Homo sapiens: one gene and its partner. The protein of the gene in region 2 interacts with the protein of the main gene of each other region in a pairwise test. Each region holds a gene or a part of one and is shown on either strand. Other genes may lie near its edges.

Evidence for each region.
Region 1: the proteins of ZNF189 (region 2) and DLC1 interact in a two-hybrid assay, tested with the Homo sapiens proteins (one large-scale study listed by BioGRID and IntAct).

What each region holds. Positions count from the first base shown.
Region 1 is NC_000008.11:13,508,280-13,512,123, reverse strand, and holds part of DLC1 (rho GTPase-activating protein 7), read left to right. Parts: intron 1-3,844. UniProt on the Homo sapiens protein: Functions as a GTPase-activating protein for the small GTPases RHOA, RHOB, RHOC and CDC42, terminating their downstream signaling.
Region 2 is NC_000009.12:101,405,320-101,409,163, reverse strand, and holds part of ZNF189 (zinc finger protein 189), read right to left. Parts: exon of another isoform or gene 1,866-3,844; coding exon of another isoform or gene 1,859-1,865; intron 1,753-1,858; coding exon of another isoform or gene 1,632-1,752; intron 1,236-1,631; coding exon 1-1,235.

The DNA.
Region 1 (3,844 bases), on a different chromosome or scaffold from region 2:
AGTAAAGTGGTGGCCCTTATAGCTGACTGCCTGATTCCTAGAAGGCCTAGTAAAAGATAGCACATCACTTCATTTTCTTCATAAGGACATTATAATTTAAAAAAAAGAATTTTTTCTCTCTCTGTCTATACCTACCCATACCATATAACTCACTACAAATACTTATGGGATGGTTTAATCTTATTCATAGAGTTTTAGATCTTACAGGCTTAAAATAGGTCAAAAATTGATCATTTGAAATTTGTCTTTTGTTTGTTTTTTGTTTCCTCTTGAAAAATGAGTGATGTCAGTGTTATAAAATGAGAATCACTCTTTAAAAACTATTACAGTATGGCAAAGTTCCAAATGACCAAGATCTAGATCAGGGATTTTATTATCAAAATAGAGACATGTCAAGAATTGCACATGAGAATTGGAAGAGGACAAGGGAACACTGAAAACTTTCAAATTTGAGGGAAGTAGTGTGAATATTGGGCCTGCTTTCCCCACACGAAAGATAAGCCCCTTGCATAAACAACATAGACCAAACAGAGTTACAGAGAAGAATGACTCTTGATTGACTTTGGTGTGATAGAGAAATACAGTGTTTACTTCTATGGTTCTGTTTTGGCTTTCAACTGATAGTTTACAGAGTTTTGATAAATAAATGGGCTAATTTTTAAGAAAGTTAAACAGAATAATAATGAATAAACTAGGACCTTGAGGCCCAGTTAAAAAAGATTGTTAATTTTGATTCAGTGGATTAGAGTATATAAATGAACTTTAAAAGATTAAACAGTGACTCAAATGCCAAAAAAAAAGGTGAAAGATAATGTAAACAGCATGCATATGAACTTGCTCATTAATTGAGATAAATGGGTGGAAAAGACAATTGCATGTGTGAAAAGGTTGTTTCTGTATTAGCTTGAAATAACAAAGTGTTTTAGCAATGCAATTCAAATAATTCAAAGAGAAAATCAGCCCTGTTAATGGAAATGAGATAGAAAAGAAGTAGGAAGATCAAACAGCAGGTTTAGATACTCAATTAGTGTTTCTTTTATTCCCAGCAATTAGCAAAATACCTAGCTTGCCAGGAATTATCAACACTTATTTGTCAATAAATGTTTGTGAAATGAATGGAAGGAAAAGCGAAGGAAAAAAAAAAGAAAGGAAAACCAGGGTTGAGGAATGGTAATGTGTGGGAGTTGGACTTCTTTCTTATTTTCCAGACATCCTGTAATAATAGAATAATAATTTCTAAAGGGGAAGGAAAATAAGAGGTTGGAAAGAGTCATCAGAGCCTGGGGCCAGAGGTTAACAACACTCTCATTAGATGACATTTCAAGTTCATTAAGCACCAGAAGGAAGCATAGGCATCCAGAAATGGTTTGAAATTAAAAGTTACATGAGGCCAGTGAGAACAGAGCACTAGTGAATTTTCCACATTTTAAATGGGGTGGTGTACCGAAAAAAATAATGGACAAAGTTAGAAAACTGGCTCTGATTTCCTCTTAACCACTTGACGCTCTGTGATTTGATGTTTGCCCCGTAACTACTTTGAGTTTCTGCTTTTTATTAGTAAAGTATGGGATTTCCAGGTCATGTTAGGCATTAGATGAGATTTCATGTGTGCAAATTGTTTTGCATACAGTATAATCAACAAGTCCTTGTTTAAAAAGGCATAAGTCAATTAATCAAGAAAGAATATGGGAGGCCAAGGCAGTCAGATCACCTGAGGTCAAGAATTCGAGACCAGCCTGACCAACATGGTGAAACCCCATCTCTCCTGAAAATACAAAAAACTTTAGCCAGGCATGGTAGCAGGCACCTGTAATCCCAGCTGCTCAGGAGGCTGAGGCAGGAGATCACTTGAATCTGGGAGGTGAAGGTTGCAGTGAGCCGAAATTGTGCCATCACACTCCAGACTGGGCGACAAGAGCAAAACTTCATCTCAGGAAAAAAAAAAAAAAAAAGAATAAAGAATAATTGTGTTTCACTCACATTTTGTTCTAATCACTCATCTATATTGAAATATCATGGACATAGAAGAGATAGTTTCAGCTCATACTCAGCCCTGGATTCTGCAGCTAAGATCAGTTGAAAGCTAAAGGAGTCATCATCACCATCACCATCACCATCATCATGATCAAGTCACTTTACATCTAGTGAGTGCTTGAAATGTGCCATGGACTAAGTGTTTTACATATATTATAATCTCATTGTTATTAACTCATTATCATTTTCCCCTCAACAGTTTTTTCATTATTCCCATTACAGAACTGAGAAAACTGAGGTACATAGAATTTAGGTAACTAACCCTAATCACCAGGGGGAAAAAAGTTATTTCACAGACATCCTCACAAAAATGGGAGACAATTCCTGCCCACCAGTATGTATTTGACACTGAGCTAGTTAATCAGTCCTGCCAAAATTCTTCCCTATCAAATTAATTAGAGCAATAATGGTATTTGTTTCATACAACATTTGTATTACTGCTAAAGGAGATAGCTTCTAAGTAACACACCGAATACAGTACTTGGCCCATAATAAGTGCTTAATTAATTGAAGGATGTTTTTACTATAATTATCATTATAAGTTTCTAATGCACTTAATATTTCTTAGGTATTAAGAAAAACACTTGGTGATAAAAATAAGCTCAAACATTTATAGGTAGATGACATAATTAAGATGAGATGATAGAGATGTATGGAAGACAAAAGTTGATAGCAGAGACATTGACCCCAGGTAGGACACCAAGCTAACAGAAGTAATTAAGTTCCTAATGACATCTTGTTCCTGATTTCAGTGAAAATTGTGCTTATGGAATGACTAAAAATGTAATTCCCTACTGTCAACTTGCTATCTGAGCACCTGGGTTGATGTAGCTATATCTGTTATTTACGCGGAGTGATTACTGTGTCTACTGTTGGAGTGTTCTTAGAAATGATAGCAAAGCTAAAAATAAAGTGACCACTTAAAGCAAAACCGCATCTCACCATGATGATGATAAAACATTATAATCCGTGTTCCTTGTTGAATAAAAATATCTTTTTATAATACAGCAAACCACATTTCAATCATACTGCTTTGCCATCAATAATAAAAAGGTCAGCCACACGTTTAATATCAACTTTAACCCTAGGCTATTTCCTGTTACATGAAAAATTTCAAGTGAAACAAGATCAGAGGAAAGGCAATACTTCTCTTTATTGTAAGAGGTTCTACAGAAAAGAGATATTATGGCAAAGAAGATAATTATTCATTAATGAATTTATTTGCAGAATTAATCTAAGGTACAATGTATTTGTAAATGCCCAAATTATTCTGCATAGGATCAAACAGTACTATTAAGAAGATTGCATACTTAAAAAAAAATAAAACATGGAGATCCAAATAAAACATAGATACTTAGAAATTACTACATCTGGCCGGGCGTGGTGGCTCACGCCTGTAATCCCAGCACTTTGGGAGGCCGAGGTGGGCAGATCACGAGGTCAGGAGATCAAGACCATCCTGGCTAACACAGTGAAACCCTGTCTCTACTAAAAATACAAAAAAATTAGCCGGGCTTGGTGATGGGCACCTGTAGTCCCAGTTACTGAGGAGGCTGAAGCAGGGGAATGGCATGAACTCGGGAGGCAGAGCTTGCAGTGAGCCCAGATCGCGCCACTGCACTCCAGCCTGGGCGACAGAGCGAGACTCCGTCTCAAAAAAAAAAAAGAAAAAGAAGTTACTACATCCATAAAGCAATATTGTCCCACATGGCTCTGTTAATTCTGGGATCTCCTAGAAACCAATATCCCCAGAAAGATCTCAGTGATATCAGGAGAATATCATAAAATATTCCCAGTTTCCTCAAATTAC
Region 2 (3,844 bases):
AAAAGTTTTCCCACATTCATCACATTTATAAGATTTCTCCTTAGGGTAGACTTCCTGCTGTATAACAAGACTGCAATTTGGATCAAAACTTTCCTTAGTTTCATTGTATGGATAAGTCTTCTCCCTGGTGTGAATTCTCTGATGCTGAATAAGACCTGAGCTTCTACTAAAGGCTTTTCCACATTCCTCACATTTATGGGGCTTGTCTCCTGTGTGAATTCTCTGATGACGAGTAAGGTTGCAAAGCTGACTGAAACTTTTCCCACACTCTTTGCACTGATAAGGTCTTTCACCAGTATGGATCCTCTGATGTTCAATAAGGAATGAGCTCCGACTGAAACTTTTTCCACACTCAATACAAAGAAAAGGCTTCTCGCCAGTGTGAATTTTTTGGTGTTGTATAAGGTATGTGCTTAATCGAAAGGCTTTCCCACATTCACCACATTTATGGGGTCTTTCCCCAGTGTGAATTCTTTGATGCTCAACAAGCAATGAATTTCGACTAAAGCTCTTCTTACATTTGGTACAGTGATAAGGTTTCTCACCAGTGTGAGTTCTTTGATGCTCAATAAGGTGTGATTTCCAACTGAAGGCTTTCCCACAGTCACTACATTTATGGGGTTTCTCACCTGTATGAATCCTTTGATGTTTAACAAGGCTCCTTCTCTGGCTGAAGCTCTGTTTACACTGATTACACTGATAGGGTCTTTCTCCAGTGTGGATTCTCTGATGTCTAATAAGGGTTGAGCTCACACTAAAGGTTTTTCCACAGTAATTACACTCATAGGGCCTTTCCCCAGTGTGAATTCTCTGATGTTCAATAACAAATGAACTGCGACTAAAACTTTTCCCACATTCATTGCACTGAAAAGGTTTCTCACCAGTATGGACCCTTTGATGTTGAATGAAATGGGCCTTGCGGACAAAACCCTTTCCACATTCTTCACATTTATGGCATTTCTCTTCTGAGTTTGGTCTTTTACGGATAATGTTAGTGTTTTCTCTGAACATTCTCTGTTCCTGGGTCAAAGATTCCCTTGGTATTTCCCATAGGAAGATCCCTCTTTGTTTATCTAACCTACCAACAAGTTCAAATGTTTCTCTACCCATAGGATCCTGGTCAATTTCACTTTTGATTCTTGTAACTATTACACCCTGTGGTTCCACTTCTTCCTCAATTTCTTCAATCTCTTGTTTTACAGTTGGCTCCTCATCCTTATCTCTGTTCAAAACATCTGGAATAATAAAAAGGAAATACAAAGATCAACCAAGGTCTTTGAAGCAAGGAGAAACAAAGTAAGATGGGCAAACAAAGAAACAAATAAAGTCAAGGTGGGATTAATCAGTCTATCAAGGAAAACAGGGTAGGATGAAAAAAAACTCCACTAAGTTCAAGAAAATTAAGGATGAGAAAGCATTATTGGAATATGATCAGACCAAATAATTAACAGAAGGGACCAGATGCTAATGGCCAGGCATAGTGGCTCATGCCTGTAATCCCAGCATTTTGGGAGAGTGAGGTGGGAGGATCACTTGAGCTCAGGAGTTTGAGACCAGCCTGGGCAACAGTGAGACTTCATCTCTACAAAAAAAAAATTTTTTTTTAATTAGCCAGACATGGTGGTACACACCTGTAGTCCCAGCTACTCAGGTAGCTGAGGTGGGAGGATTGATCACTTAAGCCCAACAGGTTGAGGCTGCAGCAAGCTGTGTTTGCGTCGCTGCACACCAGCCTAGGCAATAGAGTGAGACCTAATCTCAAAAAAATAAAAATAAAAATAAAAAAAGATGCTAAGAAGGATAAAAGACAAAGATCCAGGGGAAACAATAATTCATTCATTAACAAGCATTTACTCACTGCCCATCAAAAGCACTCCAGAAACATTGTAATCAGCCAGGATTCAGAGATAAGACATGAAGCCCCCCTGCCAAATGGAATGGATGTTAAGTAAAAAATGGGGAAAGAAAATAATATGATAAAGAAAATATTAAGTAAAAAGCAGCTCCTGTATAAAGAGACAAAATGGCTTTTAAAAACAATAATAAAGGGTTAGGTGACAGAGAGTCTATGATATCGAGATGCAGAATAAAATAAGTATTAAGAAACATGGTCAGAGTTCATGGGAGCAACAACCAAAAAGGGCAGTCTGTGGTAGCTTATGACTTTACCTACCACAAATCATACCTCAAGTACATGTGATTCTAAACCCTCTAACAATATAAGACCCAAGGTTCACCATCTTGTTCCAACTGAGAGGCTGCATGACATCTGAGAAATGAAAATCTTGCATGTGTTGAAGAAAAGACAGCACAGTGGTCTATGATATAACAGAGTGTCATATAGTACATCTAGGCCCGCTTCGGACATCTTCCTGATTTTCCATCTCTTGCTGGAATAGATATTAGATAATTCCGCTAGAAGATTCAATAATGACCACATTTATATTTGGCCCTAAACAAGCTCCTTTTTCATACATCCTCTTTTCTCTCAATTTTTTGTGGAGTCATCTTTGAATTTTCTATTTGCTTACTTCATTATTTTATTCTAAAATAACCTTTTCCTATTCCCCTAAGAAACTACTAGAAATTTTATTTCTTCTAAGGCTTTTTAGTGTCCCCTCTCAAATTTTTCAGTGGGCTGTATTTTCTTTCACATAATGAAAAAACATGAAAGAACTCCCTCAACTTTCTGTCCTCTACCTATAAAATTATCTGCCAATGGTACATAAAGATATATCTGATTCTTATGCAAGGCTAATCCATCCATCACTTACCGATCCTACTCACCTCTGGGCATTTGCTTAATTATCCCGTCTTTCCTCTTTCTTCAATACACACTCTCTATTGACACTTTCCTACCATTACATAAATATGTCCAATTTTATCTTGAACCTGAAATCCTTCTCTTTATGAAAGCCAAGCATTGAAAAAAAATCTTAACACCGAGGTTTTCTATTTCTTATGTTTTCCAAGCCCAACCTCTTCCTATTCAATCTATTCTGCAACCTGTGGCGAAATCTGGTTTCTGTTTCCAGCATCTAGAGAAACTTCTCATTAGATTACCAATGACTCAAATAAAAATAAAACGGGCATTTTTTTTTTTTTTTTGAGACAGAGTTTCACTCTTATTGCCCAGGCTGGAGTGATCTTGGCTCACTACAACCTCCACCTCGCGGGTTCAAGCAATTCTCCTGCCTCAGCCTCCCAAGTAGCTGGGATTACAGGCACCCGCCACTGTGCCTAGCTAATTTTTTTGCATTTTTAGTAGAGATGGGGCACCATGTTGGTCTCGAACTCTGACCTCAGGTGATCCACCCACCTCAGCTTCCCAAAGTGCTGGGATTACAGAAGTGAGCCACCGTGCCTGGCCTAAAATGGGCATGTTTCAGTCCTTATGTTATTCAGCAGCATCTAACACTGTTGACCACCCCTATTTCTTGACATTATCTGTTTTTGGTTTCTACACTACCACATTCTTTTATTTCCTTCCCTACTTCTTTGGCCTTTTCTGATAAATTTCCCTCATTTATTTCTTTTCCTTTGTCAACTGACTTTTGTTATTGTTACCCACATTTACATCCTTACTTGTTCTGTATATACACCCTCCAGATATCTCCAGTTAAATGCCTCACAAAGGGCTCACAATTAACATGGTCATCATCATCTGCTTTCATGCCTTTCCCCACCTTTAATTATCTCTTGAAAGGCACCATCATCCATTACCCTATAGTCTCAAAGCAGCAATCATCCTGTATTTCTCCCTTCTTCTCACGTTAATCAATCATCCAAATCCTGGATTTCTCTCTAGCACCTATCTTTCATCCCTCACAATCATGTAGCTGCC